Regions from separate parts of the Homo sapiens genome. Here regions 1 and 2 are each linked to region 3. Evidence: fine-mapped expression QTL. A gene starts in region 3. Each other region holds a variant in brackets. All regions are shown on one strand. Distances are from middle to middle.

The links. PIP is the estimated chance that this variant, and not a neighbour inherited with it, causes the effect.
Region 1: its variant is fine-mapped to the expression of GUCY1A1 in fibroblasts (GTEx, PIP above 0.99).
Region 2: its variant is fine-mapped to the expression of GUCY1A1 in aorta (GTEx, PIP above 0.99).

What each region holds. Positions count from the first base shown.
Region 1 is chr4:155,603,601-155,606,365 of GRCh38, reverse strand. No RefSeq gene overlaps it. Among named protein-coding and RNA genes, the nearest start is that of GUCY1A1, 62 kb to the left of the region's middle. The variant T/G (reference allele first, on the strand shown) is at 1,504.
Region 2 is chr4:155,468,901-155,471,665 of GRCh38, reverse strand. No RefSeq gene overlaps it. Among named protein-coding and RNA genes, the nearest start is that of MAP9, 93 kb to the right of the region's middle. The variant T/C (reference allele first, on the strand shown) is at 1,511.
Region 3 is chr4:155,665,393-155,668,157 of GRCh38, reverse strand. GUCY1A1 (guanylate cyclase 1 soluble subunit alpha 1) reads right to left here and starts at 1,310. Exons shown (of 10, transcript NM_001130682.3): 1 at 1,193-1,310; 2 at 739-812.

The DNA.
Region 1 (2,765 bases), 62 kb after region 3:
TGATACACACATATCAGTGTATGTAATACAATTGGTCCAATACTGCTTTGTTCCCTTAACAGTAGATTGTAAACATATTTATAGGGGTCCTCATTTATCTGCAATGTGATTTCAAATGGGAAGCAACATGATGAAGTGTTTTACCCCCGGACTTTGGAGCCGAACTACCTGGATTTAGGTCCCAATGTGTGATTTACCTATTGTGTGACATTACGCAAGTCCCTTATCCTTTCTGTACCTCAGTTTTCTCAATTCAAAAGGTTGCTGTGATAAGTAAATAAGTTACTATATGTAAAGCATGTATTACATCTGGCACAAAGTAAGCACTATATTTATGAGCTATTATTATTATCATTATCAATGGTTGGATACTATCCCATCCTATGAATAGATCATAATTTAAATAACAAATCTCAAAATATTTCATACCCAAAAAAACTTCTTTTTAATACCTATAATAGAATATAGCCATTATTTTAATTAATTCAAGTAATGGTTTATGTTATAAAAGATCAGGGAAAAAAGTAAATGAAGTTAGTTTGTTCTCTGTTGAAAGCAGATATTTAGAAAAAATAAGTTACAAGTACATAATTATTTTAATGGATATATATATACATAGAAATCATTTATGTTGGCATTTTTAAACTATAAGAGTTTCAAGAGAAAATGTAAAAGGAAAAAGTCATAGATATGTTTCTACAGGTTTAAGAGTACATATTCCACCAAATCTTTATATATGCAACATTGAGAAGTGTTGTCTTAGAATTAACAGGGTGTTAAAAATATTTTGGTTGTGTTCCAGTAAGAACTATCTACACACAAACAGCAACTCAACTGGAAAAAGTCTCCACAACAAAATTGGTTTCCAGAACATATATTTCACAGGGTCCATTGCTTCTGCTCTAATCAAACGATCCTTAGTAAGTAATTCAAAAGAACATCTCCATTGGCAATTTGCTGACACTGGTTTTCTTTTCCCACAAATTGAAAACACTGATTAAGGAAAATAATCTGACCAGGCATGTGAGCAAATCCAGTGCCTGACAGGAAATCTGTCTGAAATAACTCTTCAATGGGCCTCCCCTATTATCTAGATATTCCAATTCCTGTCTTGGGAACATGGGAGACTCCTTTGGGGCTGAGGGTAGAGATGAGATGGAGGAATCATATGAAATTGTTAGCTTCAATTTGTGACATGCAAGGTTAGACTGAGAAGGAGAAACTGCCTGACCAGGGTACATGTGTCCTGCTATGTAGTTATGAAGGTGTGGCGCTCCTCTCTATAAATATATTGCAGAATGTGAGATAGCTCACTATCAGAGAGTATATTATATTAAAAACTCTCTCTGTTTACTTATCTCTTCTAGCTTTGCCAAGTTCATAATTATATACTCTCTATGAATTACATTAAATAATTTAACATGTCTGGCAATGGCTCAAAACCTAAGACATATTTAGGAAAATGCCCAAGTTTCTGTGGTTTTTGTTCTAAGAATCCTGAAG[T/G]CTTAGTCAGAGACGTGGAGTAACTGTTGGGTCGTGGCCAGTGTACTTGAAGTGATGGTGGTTATGCTTGCTCCAAAGATCAAGAATAAAACATTTTTCTGATCCCAATCACCTTGAAAGCATGATCATTCTAAACTTTTTATGCTTTTCACTTCCAAAAAGATTTTCAAGGTAACCAAAAGTATTAGTTGATAATACAAAGATTTTTTTTTCAGAAGCATTCCAGCTAATACATATAAAAGAAATGTGGTAACTAGAAAATCATCAAATTGCAATTTGTAATGAAATAAATGATATAGACAACAACAAAAATTTGCTGAGCTAAGGCAAAGAATGAGAAGGTCTTCATCATGAGAAAAACAAATATAATTTGATCGGACTCTTGCATGGTTCTACCTTTGGTTAAGGATGCCCTGATGGTTTTTCTGCTATCTTCTGTATTTTCTTCACTAAGTATCCTTGTTCCTCCCTCCTTTCTTCCTTGAATCCTTTCTTCCTTCTTTCACTCCTCTAATAACTATTTATTGAGACCATGTTATAATTGGCATTGAAGATGCAAAAACTGTCCGTGTGCATTCCTTGTCCTGTCCTTCAGGGACAGTAATGAGTAAGAAAAGGGCAAAAGCGGCTGGGCACAGTGGCTCATGCCTGTAATCCTAGCACTTTGGGAAGCCAAGGCAGGTGAGGTCAGGAGTTCAGGACCAGCCTGGCCAAGATGGTGAAACCCCGTCTTTACTAAAAATACAAAAATTAGCCGGGTGTGGTGGCACGCACCTGTAATCCCAGCTACTCGAGAGGCTGAGGCAGGAGAATTACTTGAACCCGGGGGGCAGAGGTTGCAGTGAGCCGAGATCGCTCCACTTCGCTCCAGCCTGGGCAAAAGAGCAAAACTCTGTCTCAAAAAAAAAAAAAAAAAAAAATAGAAAAGGAAAGGACAAGAGCCAGACACCAGTAGGTTTGAATACCAGGTCTATCATTTCTATGCTGTGGAATTTGGGGCATGAGACTTAGGACCTCTGAGCTTGATTTTCCACTTAGAGTTATTGTGAAGATAAATGAGAGAGAACTCTCAAAGCACCTAATACAACCACGCAGTAACACAAGCACTTGAGAATGGTAAGTCTACTACCTTTCCCGTCCCCCTGCCCCACACACTGGTGCGTGAGAACAAAGAGTTCTTTCATTCCTAGCCCTGTCTCCAGTGTGGGATCTTTGGCTCTGAGCAGGGACCTGGACACTTCTGCCTTAGCTGCCCCTGTTGA
Region 2 (2,765 bases), 200 kb after region 3:
GTGTTACCCATGAAAATGAAATGTGTAAATTAATGTACATATAGTGTCCAGTTCAATTACTGGCATATGGTAGGTGCCCAACAAATGATACCTTAAAACACAAAAATGGCCAGGCATGGTCACTCACACCTGTAATCCCAGCACTTTGGGAGGCTGAGGTGGGTGGATCACCTGAGGTCAGGAGTTCAAGACAAGCCTGCCCAACATGGTGAAACCCTGTTACTACTAAAAATACAAAAATTAGTCGGGCATGTTGGTGGATGCCTTTAATCCCAGCTACTCGGGAGGCTGAGGTGGGAGAATCACTTGACCCCAGGAGGAGGGGGTTGCAGTGAGCCGAGATCAAGCCATTGCACTCCAGCCAGGGCGACTGAGTGAAACTCTGTCTCAAAAAAGAAAAAAAAAACGACACCACAAAAATGAAGAGCCACTAAGGGACTCAGTGATCTGGCAACTTTAAATCTAATTTTCTAGGCTCCAAATTGCTCATCTCATGACCACTGCTCTAAGGTAACTACTTCCAGCTTCAGAACTCTTAGTATGGAGTTTAAGGAGTTGTTTATGTTTTGTGCAAAGGGCAGTCTCTAAGTAATTTCTCTTTATCCAGTGATTTATGTGGAAATTATATTCTGAAAATATCAGGTTAGGTAATATTGTACTACTCCTGATCCCTACTGAATCCTTTTTATATGTGTGTTCTCTGAAAGCAATGTTTTATCAATAGCAGTAGTTTTGAACTTTGAGACTCAGAGTGTTTTGTGAGAAGTTAATGAAAGTTATAAACCTTTTCAGTGGAAAATGCACATTCACACACACATATTTTGACTATAATTTCAAGAGGTCCTGTGTTTCTTGAAGCCCAATATTTGGAGAGCCTGGGTTGCAGGCTTCCCAGGTTCCCAAGAACAGAGTCTCTGCATTGAGATGGTGTGAGAGGAGAGGATGGAGGTGTTTATGATTATTCCACAGCCTTTTGGAGGGAAGATAATTTTTTTGCCTGGAATCCAAACCTAACAATAATTCCCCCTTGAGTAAGCATATGCTCTCTTTGAAACTGTTGCTTGTCTTGTTAAAACCATTGTCTGATCTTTCCTTCTTCCCTTCTTCCTGGCCACTACTACTGCCATTATTATCACCCTGCTTCATTTTATGCAAAGTCTAGAAGCATAAAGGGAGTCCTGGTGTTTATTCACTTCTTGCCTAATGATTTCACTTCAGCAAGACATCAACATATATGTACACATGATTGATTTCCCCTCAGTAACTTACCGTTTTCTTCAATATCATCAACGTCCATCCAAGCAGAGATATTGCAATGTCCATAGATATTTATCCTATTGGCTCATAAAGAGCTGTAAACACCAACATGTGGAGCTGCAAAGCAGCTCATTTTACCTAAATGATTGCATTAAGGAAGATTGATAGCCACAAAGAAGAGGTGGACATGGGCGGGGCTAGAGAGGGAAGAAACACATGCCATGGTTTTTTAGGCTAAATACTGCGAGTGGTA[T/C]TCATATGTGTCTCTGCTGTAGCAATGGTGATACTTAAGTCGTTGTTCCCCCTCCTTTTGGGACCTGTTTGGGACTGCTATAATAGCTTTCAAACAGTGAATAAAAATATTACAGACCATCAAACTTTCCTTAGAGGACTTCTTTTTTATGTCAAAGACCTTCAGTGAATGTGTTGTCTTGCTTTTCTGAAGAAAATAGTTTTACAGATGGAATGATATCCTCTTACAATTGTGTCCTGAGTAGAGTACAGCTCTATACATGTATATGTATATATTTCTATCCTCTGGCTTTTAATATCTTCTGACCAACTTTAGGGCAAAGACAGTAGTGAGAATATTGGTAGGGCTAGACCTTGGTAAATTATAAAATAAATGCACTGAATTCAGTCTTGTTTACTTTTCCTGCTCCAAGATACCTCTTCTAACTAAGCCTTGATATAGCCAAAGTATTAAGATAATTCCCCAAAACACGAACTAAAAAGCTAACCAAGCAGTCTGACAAGCTTGATTCCTAGCCATGGGGGCCTCTGAATTTTATTAGACTGTCAGCTCCTTGAGAGCAGAGACCATGTCTTTAAAAAAAAATCTATATTTGATCTGTAGTGCCTATGACAGTAATTATCCCAAAGTAAGTAGACAATAAGTACTTGAATGAATGAAAAAGGATAAAAATTTTATAATTCATTTTAATGTTGTATTTATCTTCAAGTTTATTGACGTGTTTAAGAGTTCTGAAGACCCTAAACAATAATTCCACTGATTGAAATAGCATAGTCTTGGATACAACCACCCAATAGGCTGGATGCATCATTTTCTGGTCCTTGTAGAAATTACACACCTTCAGGCTGGGCGTGGTGGCTCACACCTGTAATTCCAGCACTTTGGGAGGCCGAGGCAGGTGGATTGCTTGAGCTCAGGAGTTCGAGCCCAGCCTGGGCAACATGGTGAAACCCCATCTCTACCAAAAATACAAAAAATTGGCCAGGCATGGTGCCATGTGCCTGTAGTCCCAGCTACTCAGGAGGCTGAGGTAGGAGGATCACTTGAGCCTGGGAGGTGGAGGTTGTAGTGAGCCAGGGTTGAGCCACTACTGCACTCCAGCCTGGGTGACAAAGTAAGACTTTTTCTCCAAAAAAAAGGGAAATGAAACTATACACCTTCATTAATATTAAATATAGACATACATAATTATTGATGAAGAAAGACAGAGAAGCATAAATAACTGGTACTCAAAGCATCTCTATAACTCTAACTT
Region 3 (2,765 bases):
GACAGGGTGCAGACAGGCGCGGAGACCGCGGTGGCCCCCTGCTCACGCTTTCTCCAAGAGCCGCAGTCCTAACGAAAACAGAAATGGGACTGCTAAGCAGTAAATCATTTGTCTCTCTCGCACACACGCGCACACCTCGTGGAGCCGCTGGGCAGTTAGCCGGCTGCCTTCTCTGGGCAGCCCAGCGATCGCAGCTTTTGCTGTGGAGGAGGACGCGCCTCTTACCCACGCCGCAGCCGGCCGGGTGAAGTTGCCCTGAAGCCCGCCACCGCCTCCAGCCCTGCTGCCTCCGGGGTCCAGGCATCCCCCAGCTGCGCCCGCTCGCTTGCCTGCCGGCGCGCCGGAGGCCGCAGCGCTGCACGCGGCTGATGGGCTCTGGGGCCCAGGCGCCCTGGCCGTGGGAGACCAGCGGCCCCGGCGCGCCCCGCGCGTTCTCACGGCCCGGCCCCGCGAGCTCAGCAGCCGGCGCGGCGCTGCTCGGCGCCCACCCCCGTCTGTGCTCCTCCCTCGGGCGCCGCGGGTCCCCCGGGCCCTGGGCCGGCCCCTCGGGCGTCCTCTCCTTTCCTCTCGCTCCTCCCCAGCGTGGGAACCCGATGCTGGCTTCCCAGGGCTGGGCAACTGGGAGCGTACCGAAGGTTTCTCAGGAGAGGAAGGAGACCCAGCCCAAGCGGGGGTCCCGGAAGAGGGACCGCCTGTCTGAAGAACCCCGACCCGCGTGGGGATGCAGCGACCACTTACTTGGTGGCTTCGCACACCTCGGGGCTGTGCTTCCGGATCTCTAGCAGCTCCAGGGCGCGCCTCGCAAATCCGCACTGCGAATGGAGAAAGAGAGCAGGCGTCAGGGGTGGCAGGCAGTGAGCGGGAGAGGGGACCCTGCAGTGGCACCTGTCGGTCCCCGCGCGAGTGCACCCTGGGCACTCGCGGCAGCGGCACTTACGCTTGGGTCGCTCATGTCTACCTGTTCAACAGGCTAGGCGGGACGCGGCGTGCCTCGGAAACTGTATCGCCCGCGTGGCTCCCAGACAGTCCTCCTTGCCTTTGTCTCTCTGTGTCTGTGTCTCCCTCTTTGATCACCCCAAAGGAACCCTTGCAGTTCCTTTCCATAAGGCATTCGATTTTTTCAGACCTCTGCCCGCCTCCTCCCCTTCTCCGCACCGAAAGACTGAAAAAGAAAGTAGCAGCCAAAACGCACCATGGTGAGATCACGCCCGGCTGGGGTCTCTAAGCTCCTCCAGGCGCTCCCTCCCCCACAGGTGTCCTCCGCCTGGGTCTGTTCCAGGCTGCTCGCTGCTCTAGCGCAGGAAAAGTGTAGGAAAACTCTGCACTGAAACCTGCTTCTGGAAAACTGACTCTGAGCTGAGTCCCACCCACTAGGCTCAGACTAGGGCAGGGGAACTGAGTCCTGGTCTCTGCAGCCGCCCAATCGCCATAACAGAAATCACTGTGTGGAGACAGAGACCTAGGGGCAGGGGACAAAAAAAAAAAAAGAGAGAGAGAGAGAGAAAGAAAAAAATTGGAGGGGACTCCAGGAAAATTTGGCACACTTAAAAAGAAAAACAAAAACATGTCTTCTCCACTATGCACTGGTGTGGAAAAACTGTAGTTTTCCACAGTTAAAAACTCCAACATTTCTGCTGGGGAAGTTGACATCTGCGCTGATGACTCTCTTGTCCTGGTTTTCAGATTTGAAGCCAATCTACTCATTTGCAGATGCAGTTTTATGGTTACAGAGATTTTACATCTTTTCAGTAAGGTCTGGCTTCTGCCTGGTTCAGTGCATTTAGTTATATTTGTTACCGTTGTGTGTGTTGTGATATTATGCTTTTAGTCACCTTTCTGACTTAAAAAAATCCCATCATGCTGTTCCATTGTGAATTAACAATTAATCATGATCTTTATGTGATCCATTTTCAATTCAGTTCAATTCATGGTTATCTTCCTCTTTTATATCTCCCCCAAGTACACCATCTAATCTGGTCCCATTTGTAAGCTCATCACATTTGCAAACTTTCTCCCAGTCTTGCCTACTGTGCTTGCCTCATAGTGAACATTAATCAGAATCAGGAAAAAAATACATTTAAATAAGTCAGGAACAGTTAAGAAAGTCAGCAATATAAGCACAGGTAGTCACAGAAACTTTTGCCTTCCTGCCATCTCAGAAACTTCTCTTCCTCTACATTTAACCCATGATACTCTCTTAGATCAGTAGGACATTTGTACTAAGAATATTTAGAACTTCAGATGTAGAAGGAAACTTAAAAAATACACAGTAATTCATTAGTAAAAAGAAGAGGGAAGTCATACTATTTTTAAGTAAATGCTATGAACATTCAGAAGAAAATGAGATATTGTCTGACAGGGTTCATAAAGGAACAGTACTAGAGATAGGACTTGAAGGATTGGTTATGTTTGGAAAAAGATAAAATAGAGGACTTTTTTGTTGTTTTTGCTTTTCTCTGACAGAGGGAAACTTGTGAGCAAACATACAGAGGTTGGAAAGGCATGACACTGTTATTCAAGAAACAAGGAGTAATACCATCTGGTAGAAATAAAAAGTACATAAAGAAAAGTGTAGGAAGATACGGTGGAAAGATAGGCCGGGTTCAGATGCCTGATCCGCAGTTGTCACGTGTTGCAGGCTTGTATAAAGACTTTGTTGTTGCTGTTGTCCTCGTCTGTTGATACCATTACCAATATTCCTTTCATTCTGGAAAATGACTTGTTTAACCCATTAATTTCTACTTTTACCATTCTCAAGTTTTATG